Linked DNA regions of Homo sapiens: region 2 is linked to region 1. Evidence: fine-mapped expression QTL. Tissue or cell type: lung. Region 1 holds a variant in brackets; the other region holds the start of a gene. All regions are shown on one strand. Distances are from middle to middle.

Evidence for each region. PIP is the estimated chance that this variant, and not a neighbour inherited with it, causes the effect.
Region 2: CLTB starts here. The variant in region 1 is fine-mapped to the expression of CLTB in lung (GTEx, PIP 0.97).

Annotation. Positions count from the first base shown.
Region 1 is chr5:176,524,849-176,532,948 of GRCh38, reverse strand. RNF44 (ring finger protein 44) reads left to right here. Exons shown (of 11, transcript NM_014901.5): 2 at 433-583; 3 at 756-945; 4 at 1,319-1,486; 5 at 1,928-2,101; 6 at 2,206-2,367; 7 at 2,743-2,867; 8 at 3,131-3,218; 9 at 3,305-3,426; 10 at 3,562-3,661; 11 at 3,859-6,237. The coding sequence starts at 477. The coding sequence ends at 3,921. Among named protein-coding and RNA genes, the nearest start is that of RNF44, 8.5 kb to the left of the region's middle. The variant C/T (reference allele first, on the strand shown) is at 4,173.
Region 2 is chr5:176,412,170-176,420,269 of GRCh38, reverse strand. It overlaps CLTB (clathrin light chain B), which reads left to right and starts at 3,731. Exons shown (of 6, transcript NM_007097.5): 1 at 3,731-4,093. The coding sequence starts at 3,907. It also overlaps a transcript of ARL10 not described here. RefSeq lists silencers at 3,439-3,898, 3,939-4,038, 4,149-4,228.

The sequences.
Region 1 (8,100 bases):
GGGTGAGGCCTGGGTGCTGGCAGGCTGAGCTGTCCTGGCGTGTCAGCACTGGACCCCAGGGCTCGGAGGAGGGGCACGGCTGAACACCATTGGTCCCTGGGGTCACACTGCAGAGGTTTGGTTCTGTCTCCTGACCCCTCATGGCACAAGCGCCTGGACTTCTCTGTGCCTCAGTTTCTTTCTTTTTTTTTTTTTTTTTTTGAGACGGGAGTCTCGCTCTGTCACCAGACTAGAGTGCAGTGGTGCGATCTCAGCTCAGCTCACTGCAACCTCCGCCTCCCGGGTTCAAGCGATTCTCATGCCTCAGCCTCCCAAGTAGCTGGGATTACAGGTGTCCACCACCATGCCTGGCTAGTTTTTGTATTTTTAGCAGAGACGAGGTTTCACCATGTTGGCCAGGTGCCTCAGTCTTCTTGTCTCCTTGCCTCCTAGGGTTGTGAGTCCCGGCCCAGCCCCTCCACCCCCCTGCCCCCCCGATGCGACCATGGGCTCTGGCAGTGACTAGGTGGCCACCCTCCGCCCCCGTGGGCCAGCGGCGATTCTCTGCGGGACCTGGCAGCACCCCGGGCCAGCTCTGGGGAAGGTAGGAAGGAGCCTCCCAGTCCTGGTGCTGGGGCATGGGGGCCAGCAGGGGTGGGGCGCAGGGCCCTGAGCTGCCTTCCCTCCCCATGGGGGGAGTCACCCTGGCTTCTCTCCCTGCTCTGTGCACGAGTGGCCCCCCTCAGTCCTATCGGGGCCTCCTCTCTGTGGTGCAGCCCTGGCCTCGAGGGCCCCCTGGCCAGCCCGCCTGCCCGGGATGAGCGCTTACCCTCCCAGCAGCCGCCGTCCCGACCTCCACACCTCCCCGTAGAGGAGCGCCGAGCCTCGGCTCCTGCCGGCGGGAGCCCCCGAATGCTGCACCCAGCCACCCAGCAGAGCCCGTTCATGGTTGATCTCCACGAGCAGGTAGGCAGAACCCCATCCCCTGTGCCCCTGGCCCTGTGAGCCAGTCTGAGAGGCAGAGGCAGCAAGGCCTAGATTTCACCTAGCTTGCTTCATTTCACGTTCCAGGGAGGCATTATTGGCCCTGCTTTACAGGTAGGTAAACTGAGGCCCGGGGAAAGGGCCACACTGGGTGACTAGCAGAGCTAGATTCCCACGGGGCTTTCTCTGCCCCGGGGGCCTGGGAGTAGAGGCACAGTCTGGTCTGCACTGAGGTAGGCCGCCGTGGAGAAGGGAAGGGAGCCGGCAGCTGGATGTGGCAGGATGATTTCTCCTGAGAGTAGCCCTCGCGGTCAGCTTCCTTTTCATACTTTCCCGGCGTTCTCTCCACCCACAGGTGCACCAGGGACCTGTCCCTCTGTCCTACACGGTCACCACAGTGACGACCCAAGGCTTCCCCTTGCCTACAGGCCAGCACATCCCTGGCTGCAGTGCCCAGCAGCTCCCAGCATGCTCCGTGATGTTCAGTGGGCAGCATTACCCCCTCTGCTGCCTCCCGCCCCCGGTGAGTGAGTGTTTCTAGCTCCTCCTCCACCAGCTGCAAGCCCCAGGCACAGGCCAGCGGCTCAGCGGGCCCAGGGCAGCCCTGAACTGGGCTGAGCTATCCAGCCATCCAGGCTGTCAGAGCGCCTGCCTGGCCTCCCCAGGAAAGCATACGCGTGTTCACATTTGGTAATAGAGTGTTTCAAGGTTCAGGAACCTTCCAGTACCCCTGTACCTGCCTCACAGCTTGGCAGAGGCCCAGGAGTTGAGGCTGTGGGCCTTAACAGTGGAGTGTCCTGCCTGGGTGGCCTAGGACAGGGATGGGCCTTCCACAGGGTTTCTTATACAGACCCTGGAGCTGCTGGGTGTGTGCCCGGTGGGGGCCTTTTGCTGGGTGGCATGGCGTAGACCTGGCCCAGAGCCCAGGAGAACGTTCTCAGCCCCCTGCCCCCTCTCTTGGCAGCTTATCCAGGCGTGCACCATGCAGCAGCTGCCTGTGCCCTATCAGGCCTACCCCCACCTCATCTCCAGTGACCACTACATCCTGCACCCCCCACCACCGGCCCCACCCCCCCAGCCCACCCACATGGCGCCCCTGGGGCAGTTTGTGTCTCTGCAGACCCAGCACCCTCGGATGGTGAGTCGGCATGGGTCCGATGCTGGAGGGAGATGGCGTGGGGGGAGGCAGGGTGAGGACAGCCTCGTCTCACTGACTTGCTGACCCGGCGCTGGTTCTTCCAGCCCCTCCAGCGGCTCGACAACGACGTGGACCTGCGTGGGGACCAGCCCTCCCTGGGCAGCTTCACCTACTCCACCTCTGCGCCTGGCCCAGCCCTTTCCCCGTCGGTGCCCCTGCACTACCTGCCCCACGATCCGCTGCACCAGGAGCTGTCCTTTGGTGTGGTGAGTGCCACCCCGACCCCCACCTGGGCTCCAGGGCAGCTGGGAGGCAGACCCGCTGGGCCGACCTGCATCTGGGCTCCCAGGCAGCTGGGAGGCAGGCCCACCGGGCTGACTTGCACGTGGGCTCCGGGGCGGCTGGGAGGCAGGCCTGCTGGGCTGACTTGCACCTGGGCTCCGGGGCGGCTGGGAGGCAGGCCCACCGGGCTGACTTGCACGTGGGCTCCGGGGCGGCTGGGAGGCAGGCCCACCGGGCTGACTTGCACCTGGGCTCCGGGGCGGCTGGGAGGCAGGCCCACCGGGCTGACTTGCACCTGGGCTCCGGGGCGGCTGGGAGGCAGGCCTGCTGGGCTGACCTGCACCTGGCCCCTCTTGCAGCCATATTCTCACATGATGCCACGGAGACTGAGCACCCAGAGATACCGCCTGCAGCAGCCACTGCCCCCGCCGCCCCCACCCCCACCCCCACCACCCTACTACCCCAGCTTCCTGCCCTACTTCCTGTAAGTATCCGCACATCCGCCCCAGGTCCCTGATGCCCTGTTCTCCTGGAACCTCCAGTGGTTAGACCTAAACACAGCTCCAGGGGCCCCAGGGCCTCTGAAGCCACCTGGCGTTCCCCCCTTAACCTGACAGGCACGCCAGCTGGGCTCCCTTCCCCGCTGCAACGTTCTGGGCTCTGTTTGCAAGGAGGGAGTCAGGAGAGCGGCTCTGTGTGCCCCACTCCTGACCTTGACCCTGGGCCCCCACACTTGTCTCTCTCTAGCTCGATGCTGCCAATGTCACCAACAGCAATGGGGCCCACCATCAGCCTGGACCTGGACGTGGATGATGTGGAGATGGAGAACTATGAGGTCCCATGGAGCCCCATGCTGGGAGGTGGGGTTTGGGAGACCTGCAGCCCTGGGCGCCGCTGACCCCGTCTCCTGCCCGCATGCAGGCCCTCCTGAACCTGGCCGAGCGGCTGGGAGATGCCAAGCCCCGGGGTCTCACCAAAGCAGACATAGAGCAGCTCCCGTCGTACCGCTTTAACCCGGACAGCCATCAGTCGGAGCAGACGCTGTGAGTACCCTGCCCCACCTCCCACCCCTCTGAACACAGCTGGCTGCCGTGGGACGCCCCTCTCAGGGGAGTCACACTCCACTGAGCCTTCCCATGGCCCTCAGCGTGGAGGTGACGCTCCGCGCCCCTCCACAGGTGTGTGGTCTGCTTCAGTGACTTCGAGGCGCGGCAGCTGCTCCGAGTCCTCCCCTGCAACCATGAGTTCCACACCAAGTGTGTTGACAAGTGGTTGAAGGTAACACTGCCCAGGTCTGCTCCTGGGTATTCCTCATGCAGTGACGGGGGGATGGGCTGGCCTGGGCTGTTTCCCTCCTTGTCCTTGTCATCATCTCGGAAGTTCTGGCTCCAGCGGACCAAGTCCCCCCAGGTGGCTGCACAGATGTGGTGGGTTGGGGCTGGTGAGAGCAACGCCTGACGTGCATGTTCCCACAGGCCAACCGGACGTGTCCCATCTGCCGGGCCGACGCCTCCGAGGTGCCCAGGGAGGCTGAGTGAGGCCACGCAGCCGCCTGCCCGGGAGAACCCTGCCTGAAGCTCTGGAAACTTGTGGGTGGGGCCCAGGGAGGATGGGGAGGGAGTGGCCCAGGCCTGCCCCTTCGCTCCTGCCTGCATTTCCAGAGCTGGTGCCAGGGTCAGCCCAGCGAGGAGTCCCTGCAATAAGCCCCTGCATTTGCCAAGCTCCAAAGACTCCCTCCCTAGTCTGCCTGCCTGCCCGCCCGCCACGGAGCTGCCTGAGTGTCCCTGAT[C/T]GGGTCTCCCTCCTGTGCACCCTCAGGTCCCTCCTTTTCCTGCTGGCACTGAGTGCCAGGGGTCCGCTCCCTCAGTGGGGCCGGTGGAGATCCTTGGCCCCAGGATGGGCAGACAGAGCACCATCCTGGGTCAGAAGGTCTCATGCTCTGAAATGGCGTGCCCTCTGCCCAGGTGGCACTGCCAGGTGCGTAGACAGACGGTGTCACGAGCCATTTCCTGAGCCCCAGGGCTGAATCCCCCCTCCTTGACCCCGAACAGTGAACTCAGGCAGCTGGCTCTGTGTTGGCTGCTGTGAGGGCTGAGTCTGGTTCCCTAGGGGACCCTCATCCCAGGAACAACATTCCAGCCCCACCCTCAGGCTGGAGGGCGTCCCAGCCTAATCCCGAGCTGGGGCACACGTATCCTGAGGGGCTTGGGCCATACGGGGAGAGGGAGCCCTGTGTTCCCGGTGGTTGTCCCTCCCAGGGATGCAGCCAGACCCGTGCCCAATCTCCTCTCCCTCTGTTGTTTTGCATGAACGTGAGGAGCAGCAGTTTTTGTTCATTCATTTGGCCCAAAATCACGTGTAGGATTTGGGGATGTGGATATTTAAGACAATTTCTTTTTTCTTTTGGTTTAATAGGGGCGGGTATAGGGACCAACTGGGACCGAGTGCCCAGGGGGCCGAGCACGGTCATGCTGGCCGGCCTGCATGCATGCGTGTGCCGGGCTGGGCTGGGCGGCCGGCGGTCGTGGGGCAGGGTTGGGGGTCTGTGCTCAGCTGATAACTGCCATGCACTGTACTGCACACGTCCCTAGAGCCTACCGGGACCCGACGCTTTTCAGGGCATTTCTCCCTCCAGCCAGGGCCCAACTCCCACCTGCCTGGGCGAATCTCCTCCAAGGAAGTCCCAGGAGGATGGGGACCAGGAAGGCTGTGGACCCCCATCTCCAGGGGGCCTTCCCAGCCTGATCCCTGTCCTCCAAGTTCTGGAGGAGGCCGCTGTAGGGTCTGGCTGAGCTTCCCACCCACTTTCCCTGGTCCCAATCCTTTCTTGTCCTATACCCAGCTGGGGTTGCTGCCCTGAACGAACTGCGTGTGGGGCCGGCACATCCTAGCAGGCAGCCCCTGGCGCCTGCTGCCTCAGGGATGCTCCAACCACCCTCGTTCTCCTCGCAGTGGCCCTGGCTCCCACCTCCCGCCCCAGCCTGCCGTGGGGCCCGTCAGCCTGGTCCCACCCCCATGGAGAACCCAAAGTCTTACTGTATATAACTCCAGGTGACGTTTCTATATTTATAGCAGTGTTGAAAACCCACGTGTTTTACACAGAACCACCCTCTCCAACCCCTCCCTTCCCGACCCCAACAAAACGTTTTCAAACCCCTTACAGTTCCTGGGGCAGGCGGAAACAGGCTCACAGATTGTGTGTCGGCTGCAGCAGTGATTCCAACAAGCAGCTATTGGGGGGGAAACACAGCATTTAAAAAGATCATCATTAAAAAACAAGATTTATACAACAATTACTTAGGATGTTTGTGATCTGCCGACCTTGCTATAGATGCCATGTTACCAATGATTTCCTGTGGTGGGGGCTTGCCATTGTTTACTCTCTTATTTACCAACTTCTGGCCTAGGCATGACAGTGGGCACCTTCCCCCAGCCCTGGCTGGGCCCAGCGCCTGTGTTCTGTGTTAGAAAGGTTTTATATATATATAAAATTACATATATATGTAGAAATATATGTAATTTTGGGGGCCCTGTTCCTTGCACATTTTACAGTTACCTCATTTTTCCCATGTATGTATTTGAGAAAATGCTAATATATAGAGAAAAAAATGGTTCTTAAAGCTTAAATGTGTGGTTTTTTCCATTCCATGGGATTCACATTGGTTTGTAGCATTTAACATAACTAGTATGTTGTATTATATATATGTGTATACTGATTGAAATTTTTAACAGATTTGTACTTTTTTTAAAATGAAAGTTGCTAGTTCTGCTTGACCAAGTAGTGCAATCATTATTTTTTTTAATATTGTTGCTGATTTCAGAGGGATATTCACTAATAAATGTATGATGTATACCAACGACCGCCCACGCTGCCTTTGGCTGCCCGTGTCTTTTTGGTGGGAGGTGGGATGGGGATGAGGCTTAACACCTGTAATCCCAGCACTTTGGGAGGCCGAGGCTGGTGGATCACTTAAGGTGAGGTGTTCGATACCAGCCTGCCCAACATGGTGAAACCCCTTCTCTACTAAAAACACAGAAAAATTAGGCCGGGCGTAGTGGCTCATGCATGTAATCCCAGCCGGTGGCTCATGCCTGTAATCCCAGCACTTTGGGAGGCTGAGGTGGGCGGATCATGAGGTCAGGAGATTGAGACCGTTCTGGCTAACACGGTGAAACCTTGTCTCTACTAAAAATACAAAAAAAAATTAGCCGGGCGTGGTGGCGGGCACCTGTAGTCCCAGCTACTCGGGAGGTTGAGGCAGGAGAATGGCGTGAACCTGGGAGGCGGAGCTTGCAGTGAGCCAAGATCGTGCCGCTGCACTCCAGCCTGGGTGACAGAGCAAGACTCCGTCTAAAAAAAAAAAAATTAGCCAGGTATGGTGGCACAAGCCTGTAGTCCCAGCTACTCGGGAGGCTGAGGTAGGAGAATTGCTTGAATCCAGGAGGTGGAGGTTGCAGTGAGCCAAGATTGCACCACTGCACTCCAGCCTAGGTGACAGCGGACTGTGTCTCAAAAAATAAAAATGAATCTCAAGGTAGGTTCTTCTGTCCTGACTGGATCAGGGGGCTCAGGCCTGTCATGAGGAAATAAGGTCTCCCTCATTTCACAACTTGTTTTGTTTTTCCAATAGGAACAAGTCTCACTATGCTGCCCAGGCTGGTCTCGAACTCTTGGGCTCAAGCAGTCCTCCCACCTTGGCCTCCCAAAGTGCTGGGATTGCAGGTGTGAGCCACCGCGTCCAGCCTGCAACCTTGCTTTTCTCTGCGCGGCAGCGCTTGGTAGCCCTTGCTCAGTCTCCTCTAATTTAGCATCACCTGAGGCGTGTGCCACCATGGCCTGCTAAGTTTTTGTATTTTTTTGTAGAGACGGGGTCTCATGTTGTTTCCCAGGCTAGTCTTGAACTCCTGAACTTAAGTGATCTGCCTGCCTCAGCCTTCCAAAGTGCTGGGATTACCTGCGTGAGCCACCGCGCCCAGCTTAAAACACAATGATAACATTTCTAATGGCTCAAAGAAAAATGAAATACTTAGGACTAAATCTAACAAAACGTGCAAGACTTGCATGCTGAAAACTACAAAACTGTAATGAAAGAAATCAGACCTACATAAATGGAAACAAACCGTGTACTTGGATTGGAATATTCAACATAGTAAAGGTGGCATTTCTTCGCAGATCAATCTGTAGGTTTAATGCAATTTCTATCAAAATCTCAGCAAGGGTGGTTGTTTGTTTTTTAAGATGCAGACATGCCTAGGCTGGGCACCGTGGCTCGAGCCTGTAATGCCAACACTTTGGTTTGTTGTTGTTGTTCTTGTTTGTTTGTTTGAGATGGACTCTCGCTCTGTCGCCCAGGCTGTAGGGCAATGGCGCGATCTCAGCTCACTGCAACCTCCGCCACCCGGGTTCAAGTGAGTCTCCTGCCTCAGCCCGAGTAGCTGGGACTACAGGCACGCACCACTACGCCCAGCTAATTTTTGTTTGTTTGTTGTTTTTTTGTTTTTTTTTTGAGACGGAGTCTGGCTCTGTCACCAGGCCGGAGTGCAGTGGCGTGATCTCAGCTCACTGCAACCTCCGCCTCCTGGGTTCAAGTGATTCTTGTGCCTCAGCCTCCCAAGTAGCTGGGATTACAGGCACACGCCACCACGCCCAGCTAATTTTTGTATTTTTAGTAGAGGCGGGTTTTCACCATGTTGGCCAGGATGGTCTTGATCTCCTGACC
Region 2 (8,100 bases), 110 kb after region 1:
ATGGGTGTGACGGCCTTTGTGCAAGATTGTGGTTTCAGACAATCCTTGTTTTTTGTTGTTGTTGTTGTTGGGTTTTTTTTTTTTTCTTGAGACGGAGTTTTGCTCTTGTTGCCCAGGCTGGAGTACAATGGGGCAATCTCGGCTCACTGCAACCTCTGCCTCCCAGGTTCAAGCAATTCTTCTGCCTTAGCCTCCTGAGTAGCTGGGATTACAGGTGTGTGCCACCACACCCAGCTAATTTTGTATTTTTAGTAGAGACGGGGTTTCATCATGTTAGGTTGGTCTTGAACTCCAGACCTCAGGTGATCCGCCCATCTCAGCATCCCAAAGTGTTGGGATTACAGGCATGAGCCACCGTGCCCAGCCTCAGACAGTCCTTGTAATATTTTCTATCATAGGCATGTGTGCATGGGAGCCCCTCATTTATGGCCTCCTGAGTCCATTTTGCTAGGGTTTGGCATAAGTGACTCCAGTTTGATTTGGACAACTTGTGCAGAAGGATGCCCACTTTTGGTATTTCTATTCAACATAGTACTGGAAGTCCTAGCCAGAGAAATTAGGCAAGAAAAAGAAATAAAAGCAACCCAGATTGGAAAGTAAGAAGTATCTCTGTTTGCAGATGCTATTTATTTATTTAGAGACAGGGTCTCACTCTCATTGCCCAGGCTGGAGCGCAGTGGTGTGATTGTTATAGGACAGGGGTCCCAATCCAGACCCCAAGAGAGGGTTCTTGGATCTCACGCAAGAAAGAATTCAGGGTGAGTCCTTGGTGCAAAGCGAAAACAAGTTTATTAAGAAAGTAAAGGAGGGGCCGGGCACGGTGGCTCACGCCTGTAATCCCAGCACTTTGGCAGGCCGAGGTGGACAGATCATGAAGTCAAGAGATCGAGACCATCCTGGCTAACAGGGTGAAACCCCGTCTCTACTAAAAATACAAAAAAAAAAAAAATTAGCTGAGCATGGTGGCAGGCTCCTGTAGTCCCAGCTACTTGGGAGGCTGAGGCAGGAGAATGGCGTGAACCCGGGAGGTGGAGCTTGCAGTGAGCCGAGATCGCACCACTGCACTCCAGCCTGGGCAACAGAGCGAGACTCCACCTCAAAAAAAGAAAAAGAAAGTAAAGGAATAGAAGAATGGCTACTCCATAGACAGAGCAGCCCCAAGGACTGCTGGTTGCATATTTTCATGGCCATTTCTTGATGAAATGCTAAACAAGGGGTGGATTATTCGTGCCTTCCCTTTTTAGACCGTATAGGGTAACTTCCTGATGTTGCCATGGCATTTGTAAACTGTCCTGGCACTGGTGGGAGTGAGGATGACCAGAGGTCACTCTTGTCACCATTTTGGTTTTGGTGGGTTTTGGCTGGCTCCTTTACTGCAACCTGGTTTTTGTTGTTGTTGTTTGTTGGTTTGTTTGTTTTTTGAGACTGAGTCTTGCACTGTCACCCAGGCTGGAGTGCAGTGGTGAGATCTCGGCTCACTGTAACCTCCGCCTCCCGGGTTCAAGCAATTCTCCTGCCTCAGCCTCCCAAGTAGCTGGGATTACAGGCACCTGCCACCATGCCCAGCTAATTTTTTGTATTTTTAGTAGAGACGGGGTTTCACTATATTGACCAGGCTGGTCGCAAACTCCTGACCTCACAATCCGCCCACCTTGGCCTCCCAAAGTGCTGGGATTACAGGCGTGGGCCACCTTGCCCAACACTGCAAACTGTGTTATCAGCAAGGTCTTTATGACTTGTATTTTGTGCTGACCTCCTATCTCATCCTGTGATTTAGAATGCCCTAACCGTCTGGGAATGCAGCCCAGTAGGTTTCAGCCTCATTTTACCCAGATCCTGTTTACGACGGACTTGCTCTGATTCACACACCTCTGACACAATCATAGCTCACTGCAACCTTGACTTCCCGGGCTCAGGTGATTCCCTCACCTCGGCCTCCTGAGTAACTGGGACTACGGGCACCATACCACCATGTCTGGCTAATTTTTTGTAGTTTTAGTAGTGATGGGGTTTTGCCACGTTGTCCAGACTGGTCTCAAACTCCTGGGCTCAATCTATCCACCCACTTCCACCTCCCAAAGTGCTGGGATTACAGGTATGAGCCATGGCACCTGGCTAATAAGCTCTTATCTGCAGAAAACCCTAAATATTCCACACACAAAAAATGTTAGAGCTAATAAATGAATTCAGCAAAGCAGCAGGATACAAAGCCAATGCACAAAAATCAGTTAAATTTCTATGCATTAACAATACGCAATCAAAAAAGAAGATAAAACTTCCACTTACAATAACATCAAAAAGGCCAGGTGTGTTGGCTCATGCCTGTAATCCCAGCTCTTTGGAAGTCTGAGGATGAGAGGATCACTTGAGCCCAGGAGTTGAAGCTGTAGTGAACTATAATCGTACCACTACACTCTAGCCTGGGCAAGAGTAAGATCCTGTCTCAAAACAAAAAACAAACAAACAACAACAACAAAACCATGCAAATGGACAGCAATAAATAAATACATTAATTTAATTAAATAAAACAATAAAAACCCCCCCAAAAACAGTAACATCAAAAGGTGCTCAAGTTGTTACCAATTAAACTGAAAGTTCCAGCTGGGCTTGGTAGCTCACACATGTAATCCCAGTGTTTTGGGAGACCAAGGCAGGAGGATCCCCTGAGGCCAGCAGTTCAAGACCAGCCCAGTTAATATAGCGAGGCCCTGTCTCTAAATAAAAAAATTAAAAAGAAAAAAAAAAAAACACCTGGAAGGTCCCTTCACCCCAACTCCACTTCCACCCCCAACTTGGCGGCACATCTTTCCTTTCGCTCTTCCAGTCCATATTTCATAGTTGCCTTTCAAGTCCCACATTAGAAATAGCAGACAGCCCAAATCCCATGGTGTTTCTTTGCATCGTCTCCCTATACCCCGTGTTTAAATGTCACAGCGCCTCACACACAGTGCTTTGACAGGCCATTTGCCATCTGTTGGTCTCACCGGATTGTAATCTCCGCATGGCCATGGCTGGATTTTATAAAACGTTGCTGTCCTGGTGCTTGGCAAAGCGCAGGCAGGGAGGAGGCATTCAGAGCCTGTTCACAGAGGGCAGCGGGCAGCGTGGAGAGTGGTAGGCTGCCTGGGTAAACCAGGTCTGCCTTTCTCAGGCTGGTTCATACCTAAAGGACATTTAAGGGGCCTAGCTGGCCATCCAAACTCTGGTCGTATGAACTGAAGCCTCCTCAAGGGAGATACACAAAAAAATACACAAAACAACACGGCCTAGTGGGAAAGGACCTGGACTTGCATGAAAAGGTGCGGGGCAGCCTTTCCCAGCCTCAATTTTCCTCTTCTTACAGAGGCGGAGGCTCATAGAATGAGGTGCATGACATCCCAACCTAGGAGAAGAAACTTCTGCAGAATGAATCAGGAGCCAGGTCTGCGCTCCCGAGGCCAGAGGTGGCCTCCTGTCGCAGCTCTGTGCACGGTACGGCCACTCTGTGCCCTGCGTTTCGCCTCCAGGCCGGGCGGGAGCAGTGCCTAGCCCAGGTGTCCTCGACGCGAGCAGCTGGGCGCCGCTGCGGAGGGAGGGAAGCGCCGCGCCGGTCCCGGGCCCAGCGCTGCGCCCAGTCCTGAGGCGCCCTCCTGCGGCCGCTGCTCGGCGACCTCCCGGCCCTGCGGCCCCGCCCCCGCGGTGACGTCACCGCATTCCGGCTCCGCTCCTCCCGCCGCGGCGCCCGCACCGCAGTGACAGCCAGCCGGGCCCGGTGGCGGAGAGGAAGTGCGGTCCGCGCCAAGCCCGTCCCCGCCGACGCCGGCTCCCCCGCGGCTCGGGTGACAGCGTCGCGGCCGCCGGACGCAGCGCGGGGCAGGCGCGGGCAGAGCCGAGCGCAGCGGAGGCTCCGGCGGAGGCGCGGGGAAAATGGCTGATGACTTTGGCTTCTTCTCGTCGTCGGAGAGCGGTGCCCCGGAGGCGGCGGAGGAGGACCCGGCGGCCGCCTTCCTGGCCCAGCAGGAGAGCGAGATTGCAGGCATAGAGAACGACGAGGGCTTCGGGGCACCTGCCGGCAGCCATGCGGCCCCCGCGCAGCCGGGCCCCACGAGTGGGGGTGAGTCAGCGCGGGGCCTGGAGAGGGGCTCAGGGCGCGCACCCGGGGGACCCCGGCCGGGGCCCAGGGGCACAGGGAAGAGAGCCTGCTCTAGGCCACCCGGGGCAGGAGCTGGGAGACGTGGGGAAGAATCTTCTTGGAGATCTCCATGTAGGACTTCCGAGCTGGGGATGAGGCCTCGCCTGGGGCTGTGGATCTGGTGACTCCCGGGACAGGAATTCGGTCATGACATTTCATCCCCAGGCCAGCTTCCCCACTGCCCGGCTCTGGAATCCAACCCCACCTCAGTTTTGAGAGTCCCTCCTGAGCCTCCTAATAGCCTGGGTGTCCCAGGCTCCCAGCTAAGTGTGCAGGTGTGGGCAGAACACAGCCCTCCTGGCCCCTCAGGCTTAGCTCTCTCCTGCAGCTGGGAAAAAAGAGGATCCTGGGTGCTCCAGGAACTCACTAACCTTCCCCGGTGACCGCCTGGCATTCGGCAGTCGCTGGGCTAAGCGCCTTGGTTACATTTAATCACTTCATACACGTGATTGAACCCATTTCAGAGATGGTAAAACTGAGGCTCAAGGGAGTATGCTATTGAAATAACTAGTAAGTGGCAGATCAAGAATTTAAACCTGTTTCTTTTTCTTTTACATATATATTTTTTCTTTTCCTTTTTTTGAGATGGGGTCTCGCTATGTTGCCCAGACTGGTCTTGAGCTCCTGGGCTCAAGCAATCCTCCCACCTCTGCCTCCTAAAGTGTTGGGATTACAGGTGTGAGTCACCACACCTGGCCGTGAATTTAAACCTGTTCCTGTCGGACTTGAAGCCCTCTCCACCTGACCACACTGCCTACCAAGTGTCTGGCTCTGAGTTAGACACCGGAGTGTGGGCCACAAAGAGGCATCAGTCAGATGCGGTAGGGCCCTTCAGGGTTTTGTAGTTGTCGACTTAATGGTTTTCCAAAGGTGGTCCGGGGCTATTATGATTTACTGTGATTGGCTTCAGACCTCAGTGTTCAGGGCCTAGTCCCTGTGAAATCATCTTTATCAATGATGTTTCTGCCCTGGTTCTGGCTAGCAAGAATGATTTTGTAAAATATTTAGTAAAAAAGTAGATATCACCTTCATGGGTACATCCAAAACAGGTTTTACTTCCTGTTGATGTCATTTTGGAAAGGTTTATGGGCCTGTTGTAGTAAGTGCTAACATATATACATATAGACATATTTTGGTTAATGATGTTTACAAGGCTCTTCACAGTCATGTTTGTATCCATTCAACGTTTACTGAGCACCTACTGTGTGTCAGGACGCTGGGGATACAGAAATGAATAAGACAGTTCCTGTGGCTGAGGAGTTTGAAGCAACTCTGTATCTCCTTGATATGAGAAATGTAACCAGGCTTTTGTAACATGCAAGAAACCGGTGGCCCAGAGAATCTGAGTATCTTGCCCAGAGTCACACAGCCAGGAATGACCAATCTAGGACTTGATCCCACGCCTCCCAACTCTGGGCTCCATGCTCTTTCAAATGCTGTGGAGCCTGGGCAACATGGTGAAACCCCATCTCTACAAAACATACAAAAATTAGCCAGGCATGGTGGCATGTAGCTGTAGTTGTAGTTCCAGCTGCTCGGGAAGGCTGAGGCAGGAGCATAGCTTGAGCCCGGGAGGTGTAGGTAGGTCGCCGTGTGCTGTGATCACGTCTCTGTACTCCAGCCTGGGCAGCAGAGTGAGACCCTGTCTCAAAAAAAAAAAAAAAAAGATTCTATAGCAGTCACCTCCCTGGCAGGAGATAGGATGTGGGGTGAGAAGCATGGGGTCTTTTGCCACCTATCTGAGACAGCAATGGAGGGCTTCTGAAGTGGAAGCTTCCAGCACCTCAATACAGAATCTGCCGTGTCCCAGGGAATTCCTAAGAAATGCCTGCCCCAGTTAATGCACCAGTATTCACTGGACCACACCTCTGTGAGACCACCCTTTTCCTCAGTCTGGCTCACTGGGGCCTGTTGGGGTCGGGGTGCAGGGAAGAGGAGGGAGGCCTTGTGGGGAGGTCCTGCTGAGGGGAGCCATTGTGAGAACCTCAGGAGAGAAAAGATGGGATTCAGGCTGAGGGCAGCCAGATGCCTGAGGGAGCTGAGCAGGTTGTGGCCTCTCCCAGGATGGTGGGGCTCCAGGGACTTACAGTCTGGATGGCAAGTTCTGTCCTTGGCAGGGGTGGGGCACAAATTGGCCTCAGACCAGAGGTGACAGGGAGAGAAACAATGACACGCTCGCTTCTTCCAGGGAGGTGCCGGGGATACAGCCTTCTGAGGGTCTCCCAGGCGCATACCTGCTGACTCTGCAAAGGCTCAGCTGCCCTCCTTAGTTGGATCGGGGAGCAGGGAGGTGTTGAGGGATGGCGGCTCAGTGGATGGCCAGATGGGCTAGAATTGATCTGACCTTCTCAGCCTATGCAGTGCTGAACAGGTAATCTTCCCCTGACCAGGGATGTGTGCCAGGAGCCTGGATGGGGCAGAGAAAAAGCGCCCTGGCCTGCTGAGAGCTGGGCAAAAGCTGGCTTAGCAGCGGCCGCCAGTCAGTACCTCTGAGGCACCTTCTCTTAGATGTTGGGGTCCTCAGATTAGCAATCTCTGTGCTGACACTGGGCTCAGTTGCCCCTGGGGAAAGAGGTATCTGGTGTAGGCCTGTGCTGGAGCCACAGGGAGCCCCTCCTCTCTGGCTGGATCTGTGGCCCTGGGTGATCTGGATGATGGACACTTTGTTTCCATTCATCAGCCTTGGGTAGGTTTCCATTTTCACACCCAGTTTTCTGAGCACCAGGCCTGGCTCTGACTTGCCTGTCAGTTCTGGGCAAGCCCATTTCCCCCGCTGGGCCTCGTAAGCTCACAGGAATGTTCTGGACCCTCTCTGCCCTTGTTCCAAAATGGGTCAGGCAGCTGAGGGAAGCAAACCCTCAGGGGTTTATCCCTGGGACGTGTCTCTGTCTCAGTCCTGTTCTGCTGGCCTGTGAGTGTGGACTCCCGGTGGTAGATGGGCAGTGGGTGGGTGGAGAGCACTGTGGGAACAGGTACTTGGAATGCTGTGTAGGTGTGTGTGGACTCTTAAGGAGGCCGAAACTGCATGTCCAGAGGAACACTCTCGAGGCTGAGGCAGAGAGACTTTCTGAAGGTCAGGGTAGACCCCAGGCAGCTGTGTGTAGATGTGGGGTCTGAGACTGGGGTTGGTCAGGGCGGAGTAGGGTGGTGCAAATTCTCGAGAAGGCCAAATGTACAGACCGGCATCACAGGGAATAGACCCTGGTAACGTGAGGCCCTGCTAGAGGAGACACCCCAGCAGAAGAAGCCCCTTTGCAGAAGATGCTGCCACTGAAATGCTATTGGTCCCACTGTGATTTAGGGGCCAGGACACCCATGCAGGAGAAGCCTTATCTGAAGGAATGGGAGTGACAGCTGACAGAGTTGGTTGGAATCAATCACTGGTTGACTCTGAAAGCAAAGTCAATTATGATTTATGTCACCCGGGGATTATTTCCATGGGATTAAGTACCCTTCCCTTGAGTCCCCAGGCCAAACACACTGTCGCTGCTCACAGCCCTGTCTGGCTGGTGAAGGGCTATTTGTCCATCTGCCTATTAACCTCATGTGGCCTCCATGGCTTTTTGCTAGGAGGCACAGCAGTTTCTGAGAGCCTTGCAGATAACAGCAGGCCTCAAAACAACAATTCAACTTCCATTTAGCCAATAGTTACTGCTCACCCATTCCGTGCTGGAGCCCTGAGGAGCTGAATAGGACACGGAGCCTGGTAAGGGGGTACACACGGACCCTGGGGGTCATGAGTAATTGCACAAGAGGGTGCAGGATACTGTATGATATCCTGGGATACCCCGGAAGTGAGACCTTCCGTAAGTGCCTAGGGAAGTAAAGGAAGCAGAGGAGGGCTTCCCAGAGGAGGTGACTTATGAGCTGGACCTTGGAGAATAAATGGAGCCAAAAAAGCATTCTTTTTTTTTTTTTTTTTTTGAGAT